7 linked regions of the Homo sapiens genome follow. The protein of the gene in region 5 interacts with the protein of the main gene of each other region in a pairwise test. Each region holds a gene or a part of one and is shown on either strand. Other genes may lie near its edges. The genes, in order: TMEM237, TMPRSS2, EBAG9, STOM, CFHR5, ARL13B and SLC10A1.

Region 1 (3,500 bases), on a different chromosome or scaffold from region 5:
TGAAATAGGTACTGAGTCAAGGAGAATTTTCAGATAGAACAGCAATATTTCAGTCTTAGTTTGCGGCTTCCTGAGTATGGAATTTAAAAAAAAAAATGGCTACCAGGGTTCTCTCTCGCTAGTTGTTAGTAATTACGTTATGTGTTCTTAGGGAGATTCCAGGCTGCTGATCGTTCAGAGTTGATAAAGACCACAGAAAACATAGATGTGTCAATGGACGTGAAGCCTTCCTGGACCACCAGAGATGTGGCACTTACAGTGCACCGGGCTTTCAGGTGGCTGCTTTTGTTGGACTTTTCTTAAAATAAATGTTAACTGAGTTCTGTAATTAAAGAAAAAAATAACCTCTTGGTTGTTCAGTATTATTAATGAAATCACAACTTAAAATGGTAGGTAGGTATATTTTTTAAACATCCTATTGGAATTGAGTGATCTACCTATCAGTGTAACTAAAAAGAAAGAGCTTGCTTTTACTTGTCATGAAATGTTGAATTTTATTCTTGTATATGAAGAGATTTTAAACATGTTTTAGCTTTTTACTTTAGTAATTCATGTATAATAATCAAACCCTTTTCCATTCAGGATGATTGGTCTCTTTTCTCATGGATTCTTGGCTGGCTGTGCTGTGTGGAATATTGTTGTGATATATGTTCTAGCAGGAGATCAGCTATCCAACCTCTCAAACCTTCTGCAACAATACAAGACCCTAGCGTATCCATTCCAGAGTCTTCTGTACTTGCTTTTGGCTCTGAGTACAATTTCAGCTTTTGACAGGTAATGCCTATGACTCCAGATCTGTCTAACTTCTTCAGGAGGAAATGCTGAGCAAAATGTGTCACTGACCATGATAGTTTTCAAAATAGAATTATAGAGTATCAATGTTACTTCAAAAAGTTTTAAGGCCAGTCTACTTCTGTTCTTTTTTGAGGGGATGAGACCATTGTAAACAAAATATTCCCAAAAGACTTCACCCATTCCAGCATCAATTCATAAGTCCAAAATTTCATCCAAATATAGTCAACTCAGAAGTTCCTAAATGTCATCTAAATCAGGTATAGGTGAAACTCAGAGCATTTGTATTTGTCTCCTAGCACTGCTGTAACAAAGTACCACACACTGGCTGGCTGAAAACAGCACATTTATTCTCTTATGGGTCTGGAGGCGAGCAGTCTGCAATCAGGATGTGGCCAGGGTTGATTCCTTTTTCCAGGGCTCTGAGGGAGAGTCTGTTTCATGACCTTCCCCTCACTTCAGTGGTTGCTGACAGTCCTTGGCATTCCTTGGCTGTAGATGCATCATTCCAATATTTGCCTCTATCGTCATGCAGCACTTTCCCCCTGTGTATCTCTGTATCTGTGTCTATTCTAATAAGGACAGCAGTCATACTGGATTAGGGTTCATCCTAATGACCTTATCTTATCTTTATTACATCTGCAAAGACCCTGCTTCCAAATAAGGTCACATTCATAAGTACTCCAGGTTAGGAGTTCAACATATCTTTTTGGGAACACAATTTAGCCCCTTTTAAAAAAAATCCACCGAGTTAGAGCCCAATGATATGGGTAATAGAAAGAGGTAGAAACTAATGAAATTTTATAGATCAAGTTTAATTTTCTTTAGGATGTTTTAACCCCAAAGGAATGTTGTCCAAAGTAGTCTAGTTAGATGTTTTATGTGGCCTTTGTAAATTAGATAATTTTGTCATGCGTGTTAAGTATACACTGTAGCTACTTAAAACCTAGTAATAGTATATGTGCTAGCATTAGACTAGAGAAGGAAAAAACTATAGTCAAGAAAGTAAAGTTTTGTTAAGTTTACAACTGCGCTGTGACAAGAAACTTTTATATTTTCTAGGATTGACTTTGCTAAAATATCAGTAGCAATCCGAAATTTTTTGGCCCTGGATCCTACAGCTTTAGCATCTTTCTGTGAGTAAGCAGTTTAACATGATAACTGTGTAATACTTCAGTTATACCATAATTTTGAACCAGGATAAATATAATTTTTTTTAAAAGTTGTATTACTGCTCCTTATAAACATTACCTATAGATGTTCAGTGAATTTGTAATTAGAAACATAAAAGGCATAATATTGATAGAATTATTTTTTCAATTGAGGTTCATCTAAATAACTTTGAAAAGCTTAATTTATTGTACTATATTACTTACTTTTTAACTTTTGTATTTTCTACTTGACATTAAACAGATTCAGCGGGTATGGCCTTTTAATAACAAACAATATTTTATATCTTTCTGATCATTTGGAATGCATTTTGTTCTAAGTTTTGAGAATATTAATAAAACTAGTTTTAGGACCTTGAGCAAGTCATTTAACTTTTAAAAAGATGTTCTAGGTTCTTGTCAGTTCTAATGATGAAATAGTGAACGTCTCAAAAGATCCTTCTGCACCTATTGTTCTCAAAAATTTATATAAGGATGTCTGGCCTATTGAAATATATTTATTTGGTCAAATAAATTTCTTTTATATCATCAGTCATGAAAGTATAGATTATTTTCGATATTAATCTATAAATTCAAAATAAACCAGGTTGTTAAAAATTATTAGTAATTTCATTTGTCTTTTTCTCAGTGTACTTTACTGCTCTTATACTATCTCTGAGTCAGCAAATGACAAGTGACAGAATCCACCTTTACACACCTTCTTCTGTTAATGGTAGCCTCTGGTAAGAATTCACAATGACATTAGCAATTGTTAATGGCAATAACAGCAACTTTTCTTATCCTTCCATTCTTTTTCAACTGCAAATAATGAAGGCTCTGTTTTTGTTTCCAAATATATGGCAAGAAAATACTTATTCCTTTGGTTAATGGGTAACTATTGTTATGTCCACCTGCATTTTTAATGAAATATCTTCCTTTTAAAAATCTGTTTTAGATCTTCAAGTTATAGTTTTTTTTTTTTTCGAGATAGAGTCTCGCTGTGTCACCCATGCTGGAGTGCAATGGCACTATCTCGGCTCACTGCAGCCACCGCCTCCTGGGTTCAAGCGATTCTGCAGTCTTAGCCTCCTGAGTAGCTGGGATTACAGGCACCCGCCATCATGCCTGGCTAATTTTTGTATTTTTGTAGAAATGGGCTTCACCATGTTGGCCAGGCTGGTCTTGAACTTCTGACCTCAGGTGATCCACCCGCCTTGGCCTCCCATATTGTTGGGATTATAGGCATGAGCCACTGCGCCCAGCCAAGTTATAGTTCTAAAATAAGTCATCATATGATGGACGGAAGGAGCCCTGCATTCTTACCCCCTGTCAGGGAGTTTCATATCCCAGAACAGTGATGGGAGTGAGTAGCTGGGATAGATTCAGAAAACCAAGCAATGCTAGAAAGAGCGGAACAGGGAGAGCCAACATCTGCAGATCAGCGGCCAGCCATGAAGCTGACAGGATGGCTGAGATTATAGTTCATAAAACTTAGAGAAGCAGTCTTTTTTTTTTTTTTTTTTTTTTTTCCCCAAATGCTGCACGTAGCATCCAAAAGTA
Region 2 (3,500 bases), on a different chromosome or scaffold from region 5:
GACGGAGTCTCGCTCTGTCACCTAGGCTGAAGTGCAGTGGTCTGATCTCCACTCACTGCAGCCTCCGCCTCCCAGGTTCAAGTGATTCTCCTGCCTCAGCCTCCCGAGTAGCTGGGATTACAGGCGTCCACCACCCCGTCCAGTTAATTTTTCTGTTTTATTAGAGATGGGGTTTCACCATGTTGGCCAGGCTGGTCTTGAACTCCTGACCTCAGGTGATCCCCCTGCCTCGGTCTCCCAAAGTGTTGGAATTACAGGCGTGAGCCATTGCACCTGGCCTTGTCCCAACTTGTATCGTCCTAGCTGCTACCCAAGCCCCGCGCTCTCCACGGCTCCGGAGGTGGCAGCACAGTTCACTCTTCTCAAGGCACTGACCGCACACAAAGGGAGGCCACAAATCTATTCTTTTTCTGCTAAAAAGTGCTCTCTACACAAGAGAATTGAAAACAGGCATTGGGTCCAAAACTTGTACAAATGTTCACTGCAACCCTCTTAAAACAGCTGAAAGGCGAAAACACTCCAAACGCCCACCAACGGCTGGGTGAGCAGAATAGGATATGTCCAAGATACACAATGGAATACGATTCAGCCAGAAGAGGGAATGAAATTCAGACACAGGCTGCAACCTGGATGAGTGCTGAAGACCTTATGCTCAGTGAAAGGAGCCGGACATACTGCATGAGCCGACTCACATGGAATGCCACTTATATTGTGTGAGCCCACGTATTGCATGATCCCGCTCACATGGAATGCCTAGAGTAGGAAATCTATAGACACTAAGTAGATTAGTGGTTGCTTATGAGTAGGAGGGACGGGCTGGGAGGAGGGATATGGGGTGATAGTTCAAGGGCTTGGGGTTTCTTTATGAGCTGATGAAAATATGCTAAAATTGACTGTGGTGATAGTTGCACATATTCGTGAATATATAAAAGCCAGTGAATTATATATTTAAATTTTATGGTACATACATTACATATCAATAAGCTGTTTTATATAAAAAATTATATCTCAATAAGCTATTTCATATATATGTTTTATATATAAAAGCACTGAATTATATACTTGAATTTTATGGTACATAAATTAGATCTCAATAAGCTGTTTTTAAAAATATATAAGATAAGCCAGGCATGGTAGCTCACGCCTGTAATACCAGCACTTTGGGAGGCCAAGGCGGGCAGATCACCTGAGGTCAGGCGTTTGAGATCAGCCTGGCCAACATGGAGAAACCGATCTCTACTAAAATGCAAAAATTAGCCAAGTGTGGTGGCACGCATCTGTAATCCCACCTACTTGGGAGGCTGAGGCAGGGGAATTGCTTGAACCCAGGAGGTAAAGGTTGCAGTGAGCTGAGATCACACCACTCCACTCCAGCCTGGGTGACAGAGCAAAACTCCGTCTCAATAAATAAATAAATAAATAATAAGATAAAAGGTTTTTTTTTTTAAAGTGCTCTTTAAGAGAGCACTTTGAGCAACAAATTGTCCAGGAGACTCTAAATCAACATTCTGCTGAAATGATCTCAGCTCTTTTATTTAAAGAAACAAAACATTACAAACACCGTTGAAGTCGCTCCCTATTCCCAATCTCTTCTCTCCCTCCCTAGAGGTAACCACCATCCAGAGTTTTGGGGACTTTTTGCTGGGCAGGATAATACATGGGGTGGGCGTATTCACAGAACAGAATCCCATGCAGCTTAAGGGTTAAGCAGAGCATCATGAACAGGAAGAAGCTTGAAAACAGCGCTGTGGGAAAGAGAGCAAGTGATAAATGATGCGTTCAAGTATCACGTTATTCATGCAAAGCTGAAAGCATGGAAACAATGCTGTGTGGTTTGGGAGAAATACACATGGGCTTAAAGTATAAAGTGAGGACCTGGCTATGCTCTAGCCTCTCTTCTTACTTCCTACGAGTGGCCCTGACTCACTGGACAGTCTGGTACCTGTGGGCTTGTTCCCCCATGAAATGACTTGGGTCTGATTATTGTCTAATGCCTCTGTGGTGAGTGATTCCACATCCTATCTGTGAGTCGGTCACAGGTTACATGAATGGATAAACATTGTGCTACATCTGGACAACGGAATATTATTTGGTGCTAAAAAGAAATGAGCTATCAAGCCATGAAAAGGCATGGAGGAAACTTGAATGCATATTACTAAGTAAAGGAAGCCAACAAAGTGAAGGAAGGTGTATGTGGTGAAGGCTACATACTCCATGATTCCAACGCTACAACATCCTGAAAAGACCAAAACTTCGGAGGCACTAAGAAGATCAGATAGCTGGGGTGAGTGGGGAGAGAGAAACAGGTGCAGCAAAAGAGGTTTTAAGGCAGGAGAACTACTCTGGACGATACTATCATTGTGGCTGTACAGCATTATGCATTTGTCAAATCCCACAGAACTGTACAAGAGAAAGGGTGAAGTCCAGGACTTCAGTTCATCATAATGTATGCATCAGGTTCATCGGTGTTAATGAACGCACAGCACTGATGTGGGATGTTCATAACAGGGCAACTGTGTGCTGGGGAGGAGTACAAGGAGCTCGCTGCCCTGTCTGTTTCATTTTCTGTAAACCTAAAACCGCTCTAAAATATAAAGTCTGTTCACTTTTTTAAAAGTAACTGAAATGAATACACTTCTTCTTCTTCTTCTTTTTTTTTCTTGTTCCCAGGCTGGAGTGCAATGGCATGATCTCAGCTCACCGCAACCTCCACCTCCTGGGTTCAAGAGATTCTCCTGACTCAGCCTCATGAGTAGCTGGGATTACAGGCATGCACCACCACGCCGGCTAATTTTGTATTTTTAGTAGAGACGGGGTTTCTCCATGTTGGTCAGGCTGGTCTCGAACTCCTGACCTCAGGCGATCCCCACCCCCTCCGCCCCCCACCTCGGCCTCCCAAAGTGCGGGGATTACAGGCGTGAGCCAGCACACCCGGCTCAAAATACACTTCTATGATTAAAAACAAAACTGCCACTGTGGCTCAAAGGGAGACACTTCATTCTTGGCTTGTGGGTAATTTTAGGGATTTTCTTTCCCTTCCAGCTATCTGCACCCGGAAGAGACGGCAGCTGATAAGCCAGAGAGCTGGAAAAGGTCTCAAGCTAGTCCTTTTTTTTTTTTTTTTAAATATTAGGATTTTTTTTCTCAGCTTTGTCAAAGTATAGTTGACAAATAAAAATTTTACATGTAGGCCTGGTGCTGTGGTTCATGCCTGTAATCTCAGCACTTTGGAAGGGCAAGGCGGGAGGATCACTTGAGCCCAGAGTTCGAGACCAACCCCATCTCCACCAAAAAATATAAATATATATGCATTAGCCTGGCATGATGGTACATGCCTGTGGCCCCAGCTTTTCAGGAGGCTGAGGGGGAAGGATGGATTGAGCCCAGGAGGTCGAGGCTGCAATGAGCCATGACTGAGCCACTGCACTCCAGACTGGGTGACAGAAGGAGACCTTGTCTCAAAAAAACCCAATTGTACATGTTTAATGTGTACAGCGTGA
Region 3 (3,500 bases), on a different chromosome or scaffold from region 5:
AGTCATAGGATTAAGTACAGGGATAAGAACTCACATCTTCTGACACTTCTTATTTAGATTATCTCCATTTTGTAAAACAATACTTCCATTGAACCACATCTTTTTCTGGGGATACCATTCAGAAAAGCTTGATATTGAGCTTGATAATCTCCTGTTATTATAGTAGTTACAAACAGCCAGTTTTTAAAGTGCATGATGAACACAGCTGAACAGAACACACGCTCCAAAAAGAAAATGGAAACTTAAGATACACCTTCCACCAAGTAAATTTCAGGATTAACATGTGACTAACTCTACCAAAGAGAAGAGTGGTGGGTATTTAATCAAATACTGCATGTTCTCACTTATAAGTGGGCGCTAAATGATGAGAACACATGAACACATAGAGGAGAACAATGCATACTGGGGCCTACCGGAAAGGCTGAGGTTAGACGGAGGGAGAGGATCAGGAAAAATAACTAATGGATACTAGGTTTAATACCTGGCTGATGAAATATCTGTACGACAAACCCCCTTGACACATGTTTACCTGTGTAACAAACCTGCACATCCTGCACATGTCCCCCTGAACTTAAGTTTAAAAAAAAAAAAAAAAGAGTGGTAGGTATTTACTAATCATACTTTGTGAAATACATACCTGTTCCTTACTCTTTCCGTAACTCCACTGACCCAGACTCACTCTCTCTATCTTTACTGATTGGTTAATGTAGGGAGTGGAGGTAGGAGTGGGATGATGAAACAGGAGAGAGCAGAGTAAACATACATTGGTCCTGGATCTGAAGGGTTAGGGTGTGAGAAAATCATTCAAGTATGCAACGTTGAGGAAGGAAGCTACAGGTCACAATTGGGCATGGAATAGGCAACATTAGGTTATATGCAGAAAAATCCAAAGTGGATTATCTATGTCTGGGGGAGCTCAATATTAACTACAGTGAGTGAAATGTATGTACAGTTCTCAGTCATAAACAGGAGTAGGCAGAGTTATGGATGACCAAAATTCAAGAAAGTAAAGAAACTATTTTTGGCAACATTTTGACTTTTGCTATCAATTTCTGAAGAATAGTTTTAAAAAATCTGTTTTTCATCACTCTGCTGATGTTCAATAAAAACTAATAATCTGAACTAAAAATGTCAAACCAGAAGAAAAAAGGGAGGTAGAGAAAAAATTATAAAGGGCTGGCTAGGTTATAAACAAGTAAGATAACGAAGTTTTGACCTGGTTACTAGCTGAAATAATATAAGGGCTGAGCATCCCAAATACAAAAATCCGAAATCTGAAATGCTCCAAAATCTGAAACTTTCTGAGGGCCTACCTGATGCTCAAAGGAAATTCTCATTGGAGCATTTCAGATTTTAGATTTTCATATTTGGGATGATGAACTAGCAGCAGAACACAAATATTCTAAACTCTCAAAAATTTCAAAATCTGAAACACTTCTGGTCCCAAGCATTTTGGAAAGGGATACCCAATCTGTATCAAAAACTAAAGTATAAAAGAGACAACTTACGAGATAGCTGCAGACAAAAATACATTTTACCTATCCAGATTCATGCTGGGAATTATTAAAGTACCAGAATCTTCATTCTTAGCAATACTGATCACAGTACTGGCATTATTTATAGTGGCAACAGGAAAAAAGCTCAGAGTTAGACAATACGGAATGTGGATACACTTTTAAAATGCTCAATGTCTATTCAGGGGCAGTAACAATGTACTGACACCTCCATTTCTCTTTGGCTCTACCTATGTACTTGCGGCATGAAGCATGTCTATTACGGATTAACAATCTCACTCTCCCAAGCTGTCCTTAAAGGGTAAAACATTAAGTTTTTAAGTACATTTTTTCATTTGTTTTGCTTAGGGGTTAAGAGGCTAGAATGAAAAAGAAAAGGTTTTTGTACAATATTAAGATACTTGTGAACTCATGGCTTGAACTCTACAGTGAGATTACTGTATTTAAAAAGGACAGACCCCTTCCTTTGTCTTTGTGGTTAATGGCACTAATAATTACTAGAATCCCCAAAATGTCTTAAAATACTCAGACATCTGTATCTATTATTTGTTTTTTAAAATAACACAGAATTTTAAAGAGATGATTTATCTTTTTTGATGATCCATGCAATATCCTAAGTGTTATAGTTCACAATTTAAAAAATATTCCCTTTATAAAAGATAAGCTATACTGATTAAATAAGAACTAAATTTTAAAAACTCTCACAATTTTACTGACTGAATTTTGAAATGTGACGTCCCCTAACCTGCAAAAAAAAAAAAAAAAAAAGGGCTTGATATATTTCAAAGGAAAAAAACAAAAACTTCAAACAAAATTCCCAGTTATTTAGCTGCACCCTCTGCTGGTTGTTCACAGTAACTGTAATTTATTGACAAAGCCAAGAAAGGAAAATACAAAAATGAAATCAGTTTTTTTGTTGAGTCAGATAAAGAATAATTTGTCTGCTATTCCTATGGTAAAAACAATCTCAATTTTAAAATAAAAAAATTTATATTGCTGTATCTTACTACACAATTTAAAAAATGTATGAATTCTTTAGATGCATTTAAATATCTGACTTTTAAAAAGCAGTAATCAGTCACTAGCTCTCCCTTAAGATAAATTTTCTCTTTACTCTTTGACCTAATGTAGCAGTACTAAGAAATATGTTTGCTGCTCACACACAAAAAAGAACAACCAATAAAAATGAACTTTAAAACTTCCAGAATAGTATTTTTTTGCAGAATGGGTAGTTCATCTAACACATAGGGCTTTCATGGACATCATTTAAGATATATGTACAAATGTAGAGTGTCACATAAGTTATTTTCACTCAAATGAGCAGTACTGGGCACTATGCTAGATCATGAGGAAATGGAAATAAAGTTGTAACTTCTGACCTAGAGGAATATCAAGCTTGTAATATGGTATGTATATGCATATAACCTTATATATATATATATAAAACATATATATAAAACCTTTTATATACATGTATATATAACACTCCATTTGCCATTAATAAAGTTATTTTGTTCCTATAGAGCTTAAAATTCTTGGTTTCTGTGAGGTTTTAATCATATAAAATAGTATCTGCAGTCTGAAATACAAAAAAAAAAGTCCTTATTATCTAAGGATCAAATGAAGAAAAATATAATATTTGGCAAAATAGGCTCCCTTGACTTGAAACACAGCAGGGAAGAAATCTAGTTCTTCTACTCAGGTTGCAATATAAATGCCACTCAAATACCTCAGAACTTCTTCTGCTTGCCAGGCTGCATCTTCTTCTTCTTCCCATGCATTGGTATTTTCCTGCCAGGTATCTAAGTCACCTAATTCAGACTACAATGAAAAGTAAAACAAAATTAAGAGAGTAAAAGCCATCCTTTCTCCACATAGCCGTTAAAAAGAGTATCTTTTAACACATAACTCAGAACCTGTCATTCTCCTATGTCTTCTCAGCTTCCTTACCCTGTCCTATACAAGGCACAGATGATTTTGCTTTTG
Region 4 (3,500 bases), on a different chromosome or scaffold from region 5:
CTCATGTCCACTTTGATGAAGCTGTCAGTGCATGGCAGAATAAAAAACAAACCTGCAACAAAGATACACACATTATACAGACACCAGCAACCTAATCAGTTCACTTCTCCATTCAGTTTTAAGAAAATCAACCTAGTGAACTGAAAAGTCACCAGTTCATCTTCGTGAATGAGCCAGAAGCCAGGAATGATAACTTTGATTCCTCTTGCTTACTTCCCACATTTGACTGTCTCCACTAAGGTCTGTGGAGTTCATTTCCTTAATCTACTGTTGCTATCACTCTTCTCCCCACCGCCCCACTGGGACCAATGCAATCGTTTCCCAGGCCATCTTTCTATTTTTTGTAGTTTCTCTCCTATAATCTATTTCCTAAGCTGCAAGCCGAGCAATCCCCCCTAAAATACAAACCCTCCCCCACGCATGGTCCTGCATAACCCGCCTTTGTTCCCCTCTTCAGCCACTTCCTCTCTCTTCACACCCTGCACTCTTGCTGGACTGATCTACTTGCAGTTTCTTGAATCTGCAATACTCTCCTCTTTGTTGCTTTGTGTATGTTGCTATTTCCGCCGCAAACACCTCCTGTTGGTTAACACCTTTTCAGACCTCAAGACTCAGTCAAGATGTAACTTCCAGAAAGCCTTGACTCAGCCTACGACTAGTTCAGATCAGTAACACTTCTCTGGTTTTCTCTTTTCTCACAGCTCTCTGTGAGTACTTGATCATAATACTTATCACATAGGATTGTAGCTATCTGTTTCCTTGTTGGTTCCTACCACTAGATAGGAAGATCCTTGAGGGTAGGGACTGTGTTTTAGTCTCCCTTGAATTCCCAGAACCTGGAACACAGTAGGAGCTTAATTGAAGTTTGCCAAATGAATGACTGAAAGTCTTTCTTTGGTAGAGATTCTCATGCTCAAACTTGTATAGCTGTACTGTTCTTGGCCTAGGTGGTAATCTTATCAGCTCAAATGGGAAGGGGAGGGGAAGGGTAGGAAGGAAAGGGTAACAAAAGATTGGCTAGAACCACTGCTATTGTTATACAACTCCTGCTACATGAACTCTTATCTAAGACAGAGTAGAAGAGGCCCTCATAAGGGAAATCACGTCAATAAAAAAATTTTAGACTGGGCACGGTGGCTCACGTCTGTAATCCTAGTGCTTTGGGAAGCTGGGGTGGGATGATTGCTTGAGGTCAGGAGTTCAAGGCTGCAGTGAGACATGAGCATGCCACTGTACTCCAGCCTGGGCGACGGAATGAAACCCTGTCTTTAAAAAAACAACTACCTAAAAATAAAAAAAATAAAAAGAACTTTAGTTTTCAGATAAACAATCTAGAATCCCAGTACTGACCAGGTCCTTTGGCTCCTCCTTGTAAAATGCGACCCAATCTAAAGATGATGGCTCTTTCATACTCTTTTATAATCTAGAATAAAAACATGAATAATAATTTAACATGAAGAGTACAAATATATACATGCATGGCTTCTTAAATATATATTTCTGCTCTAAACAGATTAGATGCCTCATCTTTTTTCTTTAGAACCAGATCATATCTATAAATCACATGTCCAATGTTTACCTTCTCAAAGCTTATTTATTATTTTCTTACTGATTACAAAAGCAATAGATATTCACTGTATAAATTTAGGAAGGACAGAATAGTATACAGAAACAAATCCATAACCTCACTCCTCAGCTGTTAACATTGTTATTCAGTTACTCATGCAGGCCAGGCACGGTGGCTCACGCCTGTAATTTCAGCATTTTGGAAGGCCGAGGTGGGCAGATCACGGAGGTTAGGAGTTCAAGACCAGCCTGGCCAACATGGTGAAACCCTGTTTCTACTAAAAATACAAAAATTATCCGGGTATGGTGGTGGGTGCCTATAATCCAAGCTACAAGGGAGGATGAGACAGGAGAATCACTTGAACCGAGATCGCACCACTGCACTCCAGCCTGGGCCACAAGGTGACTCCGTCTCAAAAAAAAAAAAAAAAAAATAATAATAATAATAATAATCCCAGCTACACGGGAGGCTGAGGCAGAAGAATCGCTTGAACCTGGGAGGCGGAGGTTGCAGTGAGCCGAGATCGCGCCACTGCACTCCAGCCTGGGCGACAGAGCAAGGCTCTGGCTCAAAAAAAAAAAAAAAAATTACTCATGCATTGTTAATTCAGAAACACAAAAAGCTGAAGTCTTCACAGTTTTTCTTCTGATTCCCTTAAGAATAAATTGATCTGAAAATGCTTGGAGCATATTTTATCTTCTTAGAAATATGTAAATAATAGTCATATATCAAAGTATTAACAACTTTGTAGAAAAAATAACGAGCACTGAGGGTATTTATGACGTGCCAGGCATTGTGATAAGTACATTTAGACACATAATTCATTTAATCCTCGCAACACTCCTATGAAGTAGGTACTGTTACTTTCTCCCATTTTACAGGTGAGGAAACAGCAAAGGTCACACAATAAACAGTAAAGCCAGCAGTCAAACCCTATCATCCTAACTCTGAAGAACTTGTTCTCTCAGAACCATCTCACATCCCTGGCCCCAGGAAATTTTTGATGGTGAAACTTACTTTAGCCCACGGGGAAGGGCAATGGCTGAAAAGAAGTTTTAAGGTTCCATTTTAATAGGTGGGTAGAAGAATAAATTTTCCAAAGAAAGATGAAGAAATAAGAATTATAAGAGAGAGAGACAGTCTGTTTCTTTCTCACATACACACAGGCACACACGAAGTAGGTTTATGGAGGTAGGAGTTGACCCCTTCCCAGAAGTGAATGAAATGTTCTTTACCTTTATGCACATCCATATTGAGATTGGGAAAGTTATAACGGTGAATAAGAATGAGAACGCCACCAAAATCCATCCGCAAGGTCCAAGGCCCTTACTGGGGCTGTCTGTTGAAAACAAAAAATATACAACTCTCACAACTGTTACTAGCATAATCACCACCATCTTCATCCTTACCATTCGCTGAATACCTATGTGCTTGGCACTACACCAGCTGTTTTACATGAATTTCCCCATCTAATCCTCATACAGCCCTGAAGTGTAAGTACTACTTTCCCTTATCTATGTGATGTCATAACACAAGTATATTTCCACATTACTCATTACTTTATTCAGCAAACATTTATTAAGCATCTACTATTTATTAGGCCCTCTGCTTTGTACTGAAATGATAACAATGAGTAAGACCCAATCCCAGCTTTCAGGGTTAAAGTTTAGTGGGAAAGTCAGACAAACACATAATTATAATATTAGGTGGTAAGTACAGATATAGAGTATCTGTTCAGAATATTTTGAAGACACAGAATGAGTTAACTCACGCAGTTAGGATGGAGGTGAGAAAGGAATGGGGCGGGGAGGTGATTCAGGTGGCTGTCAGAGGGTTTCCTGAAGGATGTAATAGTAAGAAAATATCGACGAAAAGAAAGTGGAGGCTGGGCGTCGTGGCTCACGCCTGTAATCCCAGCACTTTGGGAGGCCGA
Region 5 (3,500 bases):
CAAAGCCTCCGAGAAATATGGGACTATGTGAAAAACCAAATCTACGTTTGATTGCTGTACCTGAAAGTGAGGGCGATAATGGAATCAAGTTGGAAAACACTCTTCAGGATATTATCCAGGGGAACTTCCTTAACCTAGCAAGGCAGGTCAACATTCAATTTCAAGAAATGCAGAGAACACCAAAAAAATACTCCTCGAGAAGAGCAGGACACATAATTGTCAGATTCACCAAGGTTGAAATGAAGGAAAATATGTTAATGGCAGCCAGAGAGAAAGGTTGGGTTACCCACAAAGGGAAGCCCATCAGACTAATAGTGGATCTCTCGGCAGAAACTCTACAAGCCAGAAGAGAGTGGGGGCCAATATTCGACATTCCTAAAGACAAGAATTTTCAACCCAGAATCTCATATCCAGCCAAACTAAGCTTCATAAGTGAAGAAGAATTAAAATCCTTTACAGACAAGCAAATGCTGAGAGATTTTGTCACCACCAGGTCTGCCTTACAAGAGCTCCTGAAGGAAGCACTAAACATGAAAAAGAACAACCGGTACCAGCCCCTGCAAAAACATGCCAAATTGTAAAGACCATCTATGCTAGGTAGAAACTGCATCAACTAACGGGCAAAATAACTAGCTAACATCACAATAACAGGATCAAATTCACACATAACAATATTAACCTTAAATGTAAATGGGCTAAGTGCTCCAATTAAAAGACACAGACTGGCAAATTGTATAAAGAGTCAAGACCCATCAGTGTGCTGTATTCCGGAGACCTATCTCACGTGCAGAGACACACATAGGCTCAAAATAAAGGGATGGAGGAATATCTACCAAGCAAATGGAAAGGAAAAAAAAAAGCAGGGGTTGTAATCCTAGCCTCTGATAAAACAGAATTTAAACCAACAAGGATGAAAAGAGACAAAGAAGGCCATTACATAATGGTAAAGGGATCAATTCAACAAGAAGAGCTAACTATCCGAAATATATATGCACCCAACAGGAGAACCCAGATTAATAAAGCCAGTCCTTAGAGACCTACGAAGAGACTTAGACTCCTGCACAATAATAATGGGAGACTTTAACACCCCACTGTCATTATTAGACAGATTAATGAGACAAAAGGTTAACAAGGTTATCCAGGACTTGAAATCAGCTCTGCACCAAGCGGACCTAATAGACATCTACAGAACTCTCCACTTCAAATCAACAGAATATACATTCTTCTCAGCATCACATAGCACTTATCCCAAAATTGACCACATAGTTGGAAGTAAAGCACTCCTCAGCAAATGTAAAAGAACAGAAATCACAACAAACTGTCTCTCATACCACAGTGCAAGCAAGTTAGAACCCAGGATTAAGAAACTCACTCAAAACCGCACCACTACATGGAAACTGAACACCCTGCTCCTGAATGACTACCAGGTAAATAACAAAATGAAGGCAGAAATAACGATGTTCTTTGAAACCAAGGAGAACAAAGCCACAACTTACCAGAATCTCTGGGACACATTTAAAGCAGTGTGTAGAGGGAAATTTATAGTACTAAATGACCACAAGAGAAAGAAGGAAAGATCTAAAGTCAACACTCTAAGATCACAATTGAAAGAACTAGAGAAGCAAGAGCAAACACATTCAAAAGCTAGCAGAAGGCAAGAAATAACTAAGATCAGAACAGAACTGAAGGAGATAGAGACAACAAAAGCCCTTCAGAAAATCAATGAATCCAGGAGCTGGTTTTTTGAAAAGATTAACAAAATAGACAGACTGCTAGCAAGACTAATAAAGAAGAAAAGAGAGATGAATCAAGCAGATGCAATAAAAAATGATAAAGGGGATATCACCACCGATCCCACAGAAATACAAACTACCATCAGAGAATACTATAAACACCTCTACGCAAATAAACTAGAAAATCTAGAAGAAATGGATAAATTCCTCGACACATACATCCTCCCAAGACTAAACCAAGAAGAAGTTGAATCTCTGAATAGACCAATAACAGGCTCTGAAATTGAGGCAATAATTAATTGCCTACCACCCAAAAAAGTTCAGGACCAGACAGATTCACAGCAGAATTCTACCAGAGGTTCAAAGAGGAGCTGGTCACATTCCTTCTGAAACTATTCCAATCAATAGAAAAAGAGTGAATACTCCCTAACTCATTTTATGAGGCCAGCATCATCCTGGTACCAAAGACTGGCAGAGACACAACAAAAAAAAGAGAATTTTAGACCCATATCCCTGATGAACATCGATGTGAAAATCCTCAATAAAATACTGGCAAACCAAATCCAGCAGCACATCAAAAAGCTTATCCACCACAATCAAGTTGGCTTCATCCTTGGGATGCAAGGCTGGTTCAACATATACAAACTAATAAATGTAATCCATCACATAAACAGAACCAATGACAAAAACACGTGATTATCTCAATAGATGCAGAAAAGGCCTTTGACAAAATTCAACAGCGCTTCATGCTAAAAACTCTCAGTAAACTAGGTATTGATGGAACATATGGCAAAATAATAAGAGCTACTCATGACAAACCCACAGCCAATATCATACTGAATGGGCAAAAACTGGAAGCATTCCCTTTGAAAATCAGCACAAGACAGGGATGCCCTCTCTTACCACTCCTATTCAACATAGTGTTGGAAGTTCTGGCCAGGGCAATCAGGCAGGAGAAAGAAATCAAGGGTATTCAATTAGGAAAAGAGGAAGTCAAATTGTTGCTGTTTGCAGATGACATGATTGTATATTTAGAAAACCCCATCGTCTCAGCCCAAAATCTCCTTAAGCTGATAAGCAACTTCAGCAAAGTCTCAGGATACAAAATCAATGTGCAAAAATCACAAGCATTCCTATACACCAATAACAGACAGACAGAGAGCCAAATCATGAGTGAACTCCCCTTCTCAATTACTTCAAAGAGAATAAAATACCTAGGAATCCTATTTACAAGGGATGTGAAGAATCTCTTCAAGGAGAACTACAAACCACTGCTCAGCGAAATAAAAGAGGACACAAACAAATGGAAGAACTTTCCATGCTCATGGAGAGGAAGAATCAATATCGTGAAAATGGCCATACTGCCCAAGGTAATTTATAGAGTCAATGCCATCCGCATCAAGTTACCACTAACTTTCTTCACAGAATAGGACAAAACTACTTTAAAGTTCATATGGAATCAAAAAAGGGGCTGCATTGCCAAGACAATCCTAAGCAAAAAGAACAAAGCTGGAGGCATCAGGCTACCTAACTTCAAACTATACTACAAGGCTATACTACAAGTAACCAAAACAGCATGGTACTGGTACCAAAACAGAGATATAGACCAATGGAACAGAACAGAGGCCTCAGAAATAACACCACACATCTACAACCATTTGATCTTTGACAAACCTGAGAAAAACAAGAAATGGGGAAAGGATTCCCTATTTAATAAATGGTGCTGGGAAAACTGCCTGGCCATATGTAGAAAGCTGAAACTGGATC
Region 6 (3,500 bases), on a different chromosome or scaffold from region 5:
GAAACATACATAAATATATGTATCTATATATACTTATGTATTTGTTGTTTAAACAAAAAAGAATTGAAGTTTTTATTGAAGAATATACATTTCTTTCCATGCCAATGAATATATAAAGTGCTCAGAACAGTGCCTTACACATAGTAAATGCTACATAAATGTTAGATACAATTATTTTCATCAATTATTATTTTGAATGTTTATAGCATACCAATTCTGTATCAATGAACAAAGTATTTCCAATTTTTCACTATTTTAAAAAACAGAATCATCCTAATAGCTTTTTTTTAATTTTTTTAGATTAAATTGCTAACAGTAGAACTGTTGAGTCAGTGGGTAGGCAAATTTAAAAATGTCACATATAGTCACAAACTTCCCTTCAGAAAAAATGAATCAATGAACCTCAGGCAAAGGGTTGGGAGAGTGATTTTTTTCTACATCATATTCAATACCACATATCATGATTGACCTTTTACATCTCTGCCGTATTAATACATATTTTTATTTAACTTAGTGTTATTTTCATTTGAGTTTAAGTTAAAATTTTTATTGCCAGCAAAAATGAACTATTATTGAATTATTTTATTTTATTTTTTTTGAGATGGAGTCTCGCTCTGTCGCCCAGGCTGGAGTGCAGTGGCACGATCTCGGCTCACTGCAACCTCCACCCCTCCAGGTTTAAGCAATTCTCTGCCTCAGCCTCCGGAGTAGCTGGGATTATAGGTTCGTGCCACGCCTGGCTAATTTTTTGTATTTTTAGCAGAGACAGGGTTTCACCGTCTTGGCCAGGCTGGTCTTGAACTCCAACCACCTCGGCCTCCCAAAGTGCTGGGATTACAGGCGTGAGCCACCGTGCCTGGCCACTTATTGACATTTTTAATTTTTTTTTAGGAAACTGCCTTTGGTAACCCAATGCCCACTTTTCTATTAGATTCTCATTATTTTCATAGTAATTTGTAAGAGTTCTTTTGTGCATACGTGTCACTAGGACTAGTCACAGAGTCACATAAGACTATGTGTTCTATTTCTCACTAGAGTTTACTTCTTTTCATTTTTGCTTTTTAACTTTGTAGAATAGCTCTTTAAAAATTGGGTAGTATAAGATCTATCCACCTTTTTCCTTTATGATTTGTGGCTTGCTTGTCCTGCTTTGAAATTTTTTCCTCCTCCAAGCACATATAAAGACTTATCTATATTATCTACTAGTAACTTGAAGACTTTCACTTTTTAAAACGTATTTAAGTTTTTGATACTTTTGGAATTTAACTGGGTATACAATATTCAATAATTTTCCTTTTTCTAAATGGTTATTAAGTTGTTCTATTATTTTTTTCTCTCAGATTTGAAATGTTATCTTTATCTTGTACTAAAATGCTCATACATAAATAGGTTTATTAATATTCGTTCCATTGATCTGTCTGTCTCTTCTGGAACCAATACCTTCCAATATCTCACCATTTTAATTATCTGCAGTAATAATAAAAAAAAATGTTAGGTGCTTCTGTACCAAGAAACATGCTAAAAAAGTTTTGTGGGGAAAAAAAGAGAAAATCTGTATGGTTAAAAAAAAAAAACTATAGCTAATTTGCTTTTATTTCTTTACTGGCCATCTTCTTGAAATTGTAGTTTCAAAGCGTTAAGTGTACTTTCCCCATGCCACTTATTAATTTGGGAACTTTCTATATGTGATATATACTATGTCGTACACCACTATTATTCACTTCTATACATTGTGGGAAATACGGTGCTGGGAGAAGCACTAGAGCCTTCTACACAATTTATACCCATGGTACTATAAAATAATTAGCCATTATTTATAAAGCAAGCCTTATTATACACAGAGAATAATTGTTGTTTCAAAGTAAAAAGTACAACTTGACCTCTTCTCTCTCAATATTTTTAAAAGAACATAAAACAAAACTTGACAAATATAATATCTGATAGAATGGAGACAAAAAAAAAAAAAAACCTTCCAGGTAGGACCAGGAAGTCAGCCTAAGGTTTAGGAAGCAATGCCTCAGAAGAGGCATCGCTGCTGCCAGCCATAAAAGCAGAGCCAATGCAAACTCTGGACATGAGCAGAAAATGAAAACAAAAACACAGACGCGCACACACACAACCCCTTAACGTCTTCATAATTAAAATCTACAAATTAATGTTGGTAAAATTTCTGATTTAAAATGGAAATAAATGATATTCAGATATAGGAGAATTTATTGCAGTTTCAAACATCCTTAAGTATCCTGGAAAAATAGAAAATTGTTTATGTACCCTAATGCATTCTAAGTAAATATTGCAGATGGACAGTAACAGCAATACAGAAACACAGAAAATGTAAATAAGAGTAAATATGTTATTACTATATGAAATAAATGACAGAATAGATTTGTCAACACAGCAACTATAATAATTGCTACAGTCAAATTTATTTATTGTCATTTAATTCTGAAGTCATATTCCCCCTTTCACACTAGATTCAAAGGTAATTTAAGAGTAAGAAAAAGCAGTAAACCTTTAATCAGTCTCTCATGTTTAATTTCTTATAGAAATAATCTCTCAGAAGAAACACATCTGTTTCCCTGCCTCCTTTCCCAACTTTCCACCTTCTTTTCCAAGTTCCAACTTATAACTTAAGATACAAAAATTACATTTGCCATCATTCATACCTCAATGATTACAGATGCTATTGGCTGGAAAGGATTCGTTGGTTCTGGGTCCAACTCAGCCAGACCACTGGTTCCATCGAGTTCAGCCTGCTCCTGTTCATTTTGTTTTCTATCGTTTGAGGAAAAATAATTGAAATTTCCTTTGAGAAAGTGCTGAACCATGTTAAAGAAAACTGCAATAGGTATAAGGCTATTACATGTAGTAATTTAAACATCTGGACATGGTTTTGAATTACTGAGAGCATTTCAAAAATCCTTATGCAGGTAAGAGGCTGCTTCCTCCCATGTAAAGACTAATCATTTCAATTAAAAAAATGCTGATAAAAATGACATTTCCTATGAGTGACTTCTTAATATCAACAGTGCAATTATTCTTCCATGTGCCAAGGGTATTACTGATCAACTTATTAATTACCCTCCAAAATCAATGCTGTCCTCTTTACTGGTGTTAACAAATAGTAATTATTCTTTTTTTTTTTTTTTTTTTTTGAGTCGGAGTCTTGCATTCTCGCCCAGGCTGGAGTGCATTGGCACCATCTCGGCTCACTGCAAGCTCCACCTCCCGGGTTCACGCCATTCTCCTGCCTCAGCCTCCTGAGTAGCTGGGACTACAGGCGCCCGCCACCAGGCCTGGCTAATTTTTTGTATTTTTAGTAGAGACGGGGTTTCACCCTATTAGCCAGGATGGTCTCGATCTCCTGACCCTGTGATCTGCCTGCCTCTGCCTCCCAAAGTGCTGGGATTACAGGTGTGAGCCACCGCGCCCAGCCAAATAGTAATTATTCTTATTAATTCTTTTCTTAAGGGCTAAGTCTTCTCTTACAAAACTAGGAA
Region 7 (3,500 bases), on a different chromosome or scaffold from region 5:
GGATGCAACCTTTCAAAGTGCATGTGCACTCCATGCACTTTGTACTTTCCAGTGTGCATTTTAGAGAATTGCGTCCTCCAAAATGATAAACAGGTATGTGTAAATTTAAGACTGTCCCTTTTATCTCCTGAGTAAAGAAATACTTAACTTTTCTCAAACTTACCATGTTATTTTGTAATAGTTACATGTGTTGGTTCATTTTTTGGTTCATTCACATGTGTTGCATTTTATATTTCCTAGTAACATTTTAAAAAAGTAAAATATGTATAGCAAAGTTTGCCATTTTAATCACTTTTGAGTGTACAGTTCAGTGGCATTAAGTACATTCATAATGTCCTAACGACATTTTAACATTTATATTGCTCAAATTTCAGCTGCACAGCTTTGTGTTTCTGTTTTTAATACTTGTTGCAACTGATATGATCATATAAAACATCACCTATACCAATTAGTGGTCCTATCCCAGCATAGGAAGGACTTTCACACATCTCTTGAATAACCATGTGCTTCAAGTTTTATTAAAAGACTTATTAGCTAATGAACTTCTCAGTTTACCTTTGCATTTTTAGTTGATTTCCCCTTTTAGATTTCTGTCTTTCGAATTTGTCCTTTACCCAACAGTCAAATAATTTTTAATCTCTATCAAGAGTGGAGTGGATAATGTAGGAGACATTGAGTTACAGGAATTGTCCACGAATCCAGAAGCCCTCTTCTTCTGTATAGGCATTCACTCTTATTCTCTCACTCATGTTCTCTGACTCTTGGGGACTGCACAGTTGTGGTTATGAGCACATAATTTGATATGATCCTGGTGGGAAAGCTGCCTCTGCTAGTCTCCAGGTGTGTAAGCTCTGGGGAGTCACTCAACCTGAGTGAGGTTGACGGCATAGGACCTGGCATATAAGAACCGCTCACTAAACTGTAACTCCTGTTATTACTCAAAGGGGAGGAATTAACATTCTAGAGGTTCCTGTCACTCTCACTGCTGCCATCTCTGGAAATTTATCCTGTCTACAACCCCTGTCTCCTGCTGAGACAAGTGGCCCCGGGTAGTTGCTTCTCCATAGGCTACCACATTTTGTACCACCTGACTTCATTGCCCTGCTCACAACTGGGATGAGTGCTCATTCATGGGCAGCCAATCCATTGGCTTACACATGAGATGACATGTCCACAGTCTACCCACAAAGGTGGCCCGCACAGGCTGGTGAGTGGTAGAAATAATCAGATTCTCTCATTTAGGAAGTTTGCAGGATTACAGAGAGGGAAGCAATAGCAGGGACAAGTGTCAGAACAGAGGTCTGGGAGCAATAGCCACAAGTTGGCAGAAGTTGTAAGACAAAGGAGAGTTAGGGGTCAGTTCAGCAGTAGCAGCAGGTGTGGGAAATGCATGAGTAGAGTGTTGAGTCAATGAAATGGTGGGATCCTTATTAAAGAGTGGTGGATGGCTTATGGTGAAAGTGGCTCCTGGACCATGTCATTCTCAGATTCATCACCCTTTTAGCCACATAGCCTTTGGATAAACCCTTGCATGGGTAAGTTAAAAATTACTTGAATTGCCTTTTAAAATGAGCATGCCTGAAATTGTATCTTGGTATATCTAAATGTGACCTTCCACCAGCGAATGCAACTGGTTGAACCCGGTGTGAGCAGATACCTGCTGCCAGAGCTAGTTATTGAAAGTTGGGTTATTTTGATTTGCAAGGTCCAAGGAGGGTTATGTGTGCGTAAGAGGCTAGGACAATCATTTGTTCGTTTTCCAGTTTGGCACTCACTATATTATTTATGGGACAGGGTGACGAAGGATGAGCATAGTCCTCGAAGAGCCATAGAAGCAAGGAAACCTTAGCTTTTGCAGCTTGACCCACATGTTAGTCTCTGCATCCTCACAGGAGTGATTCCAGTTTTGGAATATAGGAAGATCAGTGTAGCTGTTGACTTTGTGGTGGTTTAACCCTGGAGGTTTAGCCAGGGGCAAAATGGGTCCAGGGCATGCCTGGGTTTTTTAGATTACCTTTTATGTAGTCCCTTATTACTAGTCTCTGTTTTTCCAGCCAAGGTATTTCTTAGCCCTTTTAATGTTCTCTGGCTTCATTTTGACTTCATTTCGTCTGTGGCATTGAGTAGTGAATGTGCAACACAACAGGAACAGACTGGTTGAAATAATCCTGGCTCTGCCAAGTAACTTTTCCGGGCCTCGGTTACTCTATCTGCAAATTGGGAATAAGGCAGGAGACTGAACTTCATCTTAAAGGCTTCTCCAGCTTTAAGATCTGAGATTCTCGGCAAGGTGTGGTGGCTCACGCCTGTAATCCCAGCACTTCGGGAGGCCAAGGCGGGGAGATCACAAGGTCGGGAGATCGGGACCATCCTGGCTAACACGGTGAAACCCCGTCTTTACTAAAAAATACAAAAAATTATCCGGGTATGGTGGCGGGCGCCTGTAGTCCCAGCTACTCAGGAGGCTGAGGCAGGAGAATGGTGTGAACTCGGGAGGTGGAGCTTGCAGTGAGCCGAGCTCGCGCCACTGCACTCCAACCTGGGCGACAGAGTGAGACTCCGTCTCGAAAAAAAAAAAAAAAAAGGGTCTGAGATTCTGCTTTTTGCAACCTCAGAGAAACACTTTTAAAGCTACTCTGAGGTAGAAAAGAGACATGTTCTCACATCAGTTGTCATTAGCACTATGACTTGGTATTCTGTTTCCCAGTTTTCCCACCTATAAAATGGAGGAGGGCAGAGTAGCATTAAATGATAGCAGTGGTCACTTCACATTTTAATATTCTTTATATTTTATATGCATTTCTTTAAGATCGTTTATGGGTGTATAGGATTTTTTAAAAAAGCAATCTTATGCACCCCACAAACTATCTTAAAAAAATGAAATGATGCACACAAACATGTTTCTCTGTGTATGTTGTTTTTCTGCTGGTGTGTGGAAGAGCAGCAGACAGGACTTGCCCTTCATTCCTTTATTTATTCTCAGGCATTAGCTATGGGGGCACTGTGATAGGTGCTGTGGATTCAGTGTTAATTAAGACAGCCTTATGGTCTTGCTTCTTGATAAATGAGTGGGGAATAAAAATGAACAGATGTTCTTAATGCAGTGTAATAATTGCTACAGGGGTTAGCTGGAGTGTTGGGTGTTATGGGAGTGAATAGGACAAGCATCTTACTCAGGCTTAGGAGGTTAAGGAAGGCTTCCTGGGGGAGGCGCTATTTGTGTTGAGACTTAAAGGATGAGTGGGAGTGATCCAGTGAAAGATGGTGAGTGGGGTGAGAATTGGGAAGAAGAGTGTTCCAGGTGAAGAGAAGGGCACGTGCAAAGAGAAAAGAGCTGAGACTGGTGAGGTCAGTTGAAACCAAATCAAGAAGTGCCACATTAAGGAGTTTAAACTATCCTAGGGGGAAGGAGTCAATGAGAGGCTTTAAGCAGTGGAGTGACATGATAGAGTTTGTACTTCACATCTTCACCCTCAGGTTAGAACTGGGTGAGGAGGTTG

What was found.
Region 1: the proteins of CFHR5 (region 5) and TMEM237 interact in binary tests that used the Homo sapiens proteins (3 or more experiments, as listed by UniProt).
Region 2: the proteins of CFHR5 (region 5) and TMPRSS2 interact in binary tests that used the Homo sapiens proteins (3 or more experiments, as listed by UniProt).
Region 3: the proteins of CFHR5 (region 5) and EBAG9 interact in binary tests that used the Homo sapiens proteins (3 or more experiments, as listed by UniProt).
Region 4: the proteins of CFHR5 (region 5) and STOM interact in binary tests that used the Homo sapiens proteins (3 or more experiments, as listed by UniProt).
Region 6: the proteins of CFHR5 (region 5) and ARL13B interact in binary tests that used the Homo sapiens proteins (3 or more experiments, as listed by UniProt).
Region 7: the proteins of CFHR5 (region 5) and SLC10A1 interact in binary tests that used the Homo sapiens proteins (3 or more experiments, as listed by UniProt).

The regions. Positions count from the first base shown.
Region 1 is NC_000002.12:201,626,504-201,630,003, reverse strand, and holds part of TMEM237 (transmembrane protein 237), read left to right. Parts: intron 1-151; coding exon 152-275; intron 276-582; coding exon 583-774; intron 775-1,854; coding exon 1,855-1,928; intron 1,929-2,589; coding exon 2,590-2,683; intron 2,684-3,500. UniProt on the Homo sapiens protein: Component of the transition zone in primary cilia. Required for ciliogenesis.
Region 2 is NC_000021.9:41,480,659-41,484,158, forward strand, and holds part of TMPRSS2 (transmembrane protease serine 2), read right to left. Parts: intron 1-3,500. UniProt on the Homo sapiens protein: Plasma membrane-anchored serine protease that cleaves at arginine residues. Participates in proteolytic cascades of relevance for the normal physiologic function of the prostate.
Region 3 is NC_000008.11:109,560,673-109,564,172, reverse strand, and holds part of EBAG9 (receptor-binding cancer antigen expressed on SiSo cells), read right to left. Parts: intron 3,336-3,500; coding exon 3,244-3,335; intron 1-3,243. UniProt on the Homo sapiens protein: May participate in suppression of cell proliferation and induces apoptotic cell death through activation of interleukin-1-beta converting enzyme (ICE)-like proteases.
Region 4 is NC_000009.12:121,353,251-121,356,750, forward strand, and holds part of STOM (stomatin), read right to left. Parts: intron 2,907-3,500; coding exon 2,803-2,906; intron 1,424-2,802; coding exon 1,351-1,423; intron 53-1,350; coding exon 1-52. UniProt on the Homo sapiens protein: Regulates ion channel activity and transmembrane ion transport. Regulates ASIC2 and ASIC3 channel activity.
Region 5 is NC_000001.11:196,987,556-196,991,055, reverse strand, and holds part of CFHR5 (complement factor H-related protein 5 precursor), read right to left. Parts: intron 1-3,500. UniProt on the Homo sapiens protein: Involved in complement regulation. The dimerized forms have avidity for tissue-bound complement fragments and efficiently compete with the physiological complement inhibitor CFH.
Region 6 is NC_000003.12:94,039,155-94,042,654, reverse strand, and holds part of ARL13B (ADP-ribosylation factor-like protein 13B), read right to left. Parts: intron 2,776-3,500; coding exon 2,667-2,775; intron 1-2,666. UniProt on the Homo sapiens protein: Cilium-specific protein required to control the microtubule-based, ciliary axoneme structure. May act by maintaining the association between IFT subcomplexes A and B. Binds GTP but is not able to hydrolyze fit; the GTPase activity remains unclear.
Region 7 is NC_000014.9:69,780,242-69,783,741, forward strand, and holds part of SLC10A1 (hepatic sodium/bile acid cotransporter), read right to left. Parts: intron 1-3,500. UniProt on the Homo sapiens protein: As a major transporter of conjugated bile salts from plasma into the hepatocyte, it plays a key role in the enterohepatic circulation of bile salts necessary for the solubilization and absorption of dietary fat and fat-soluble vitamins.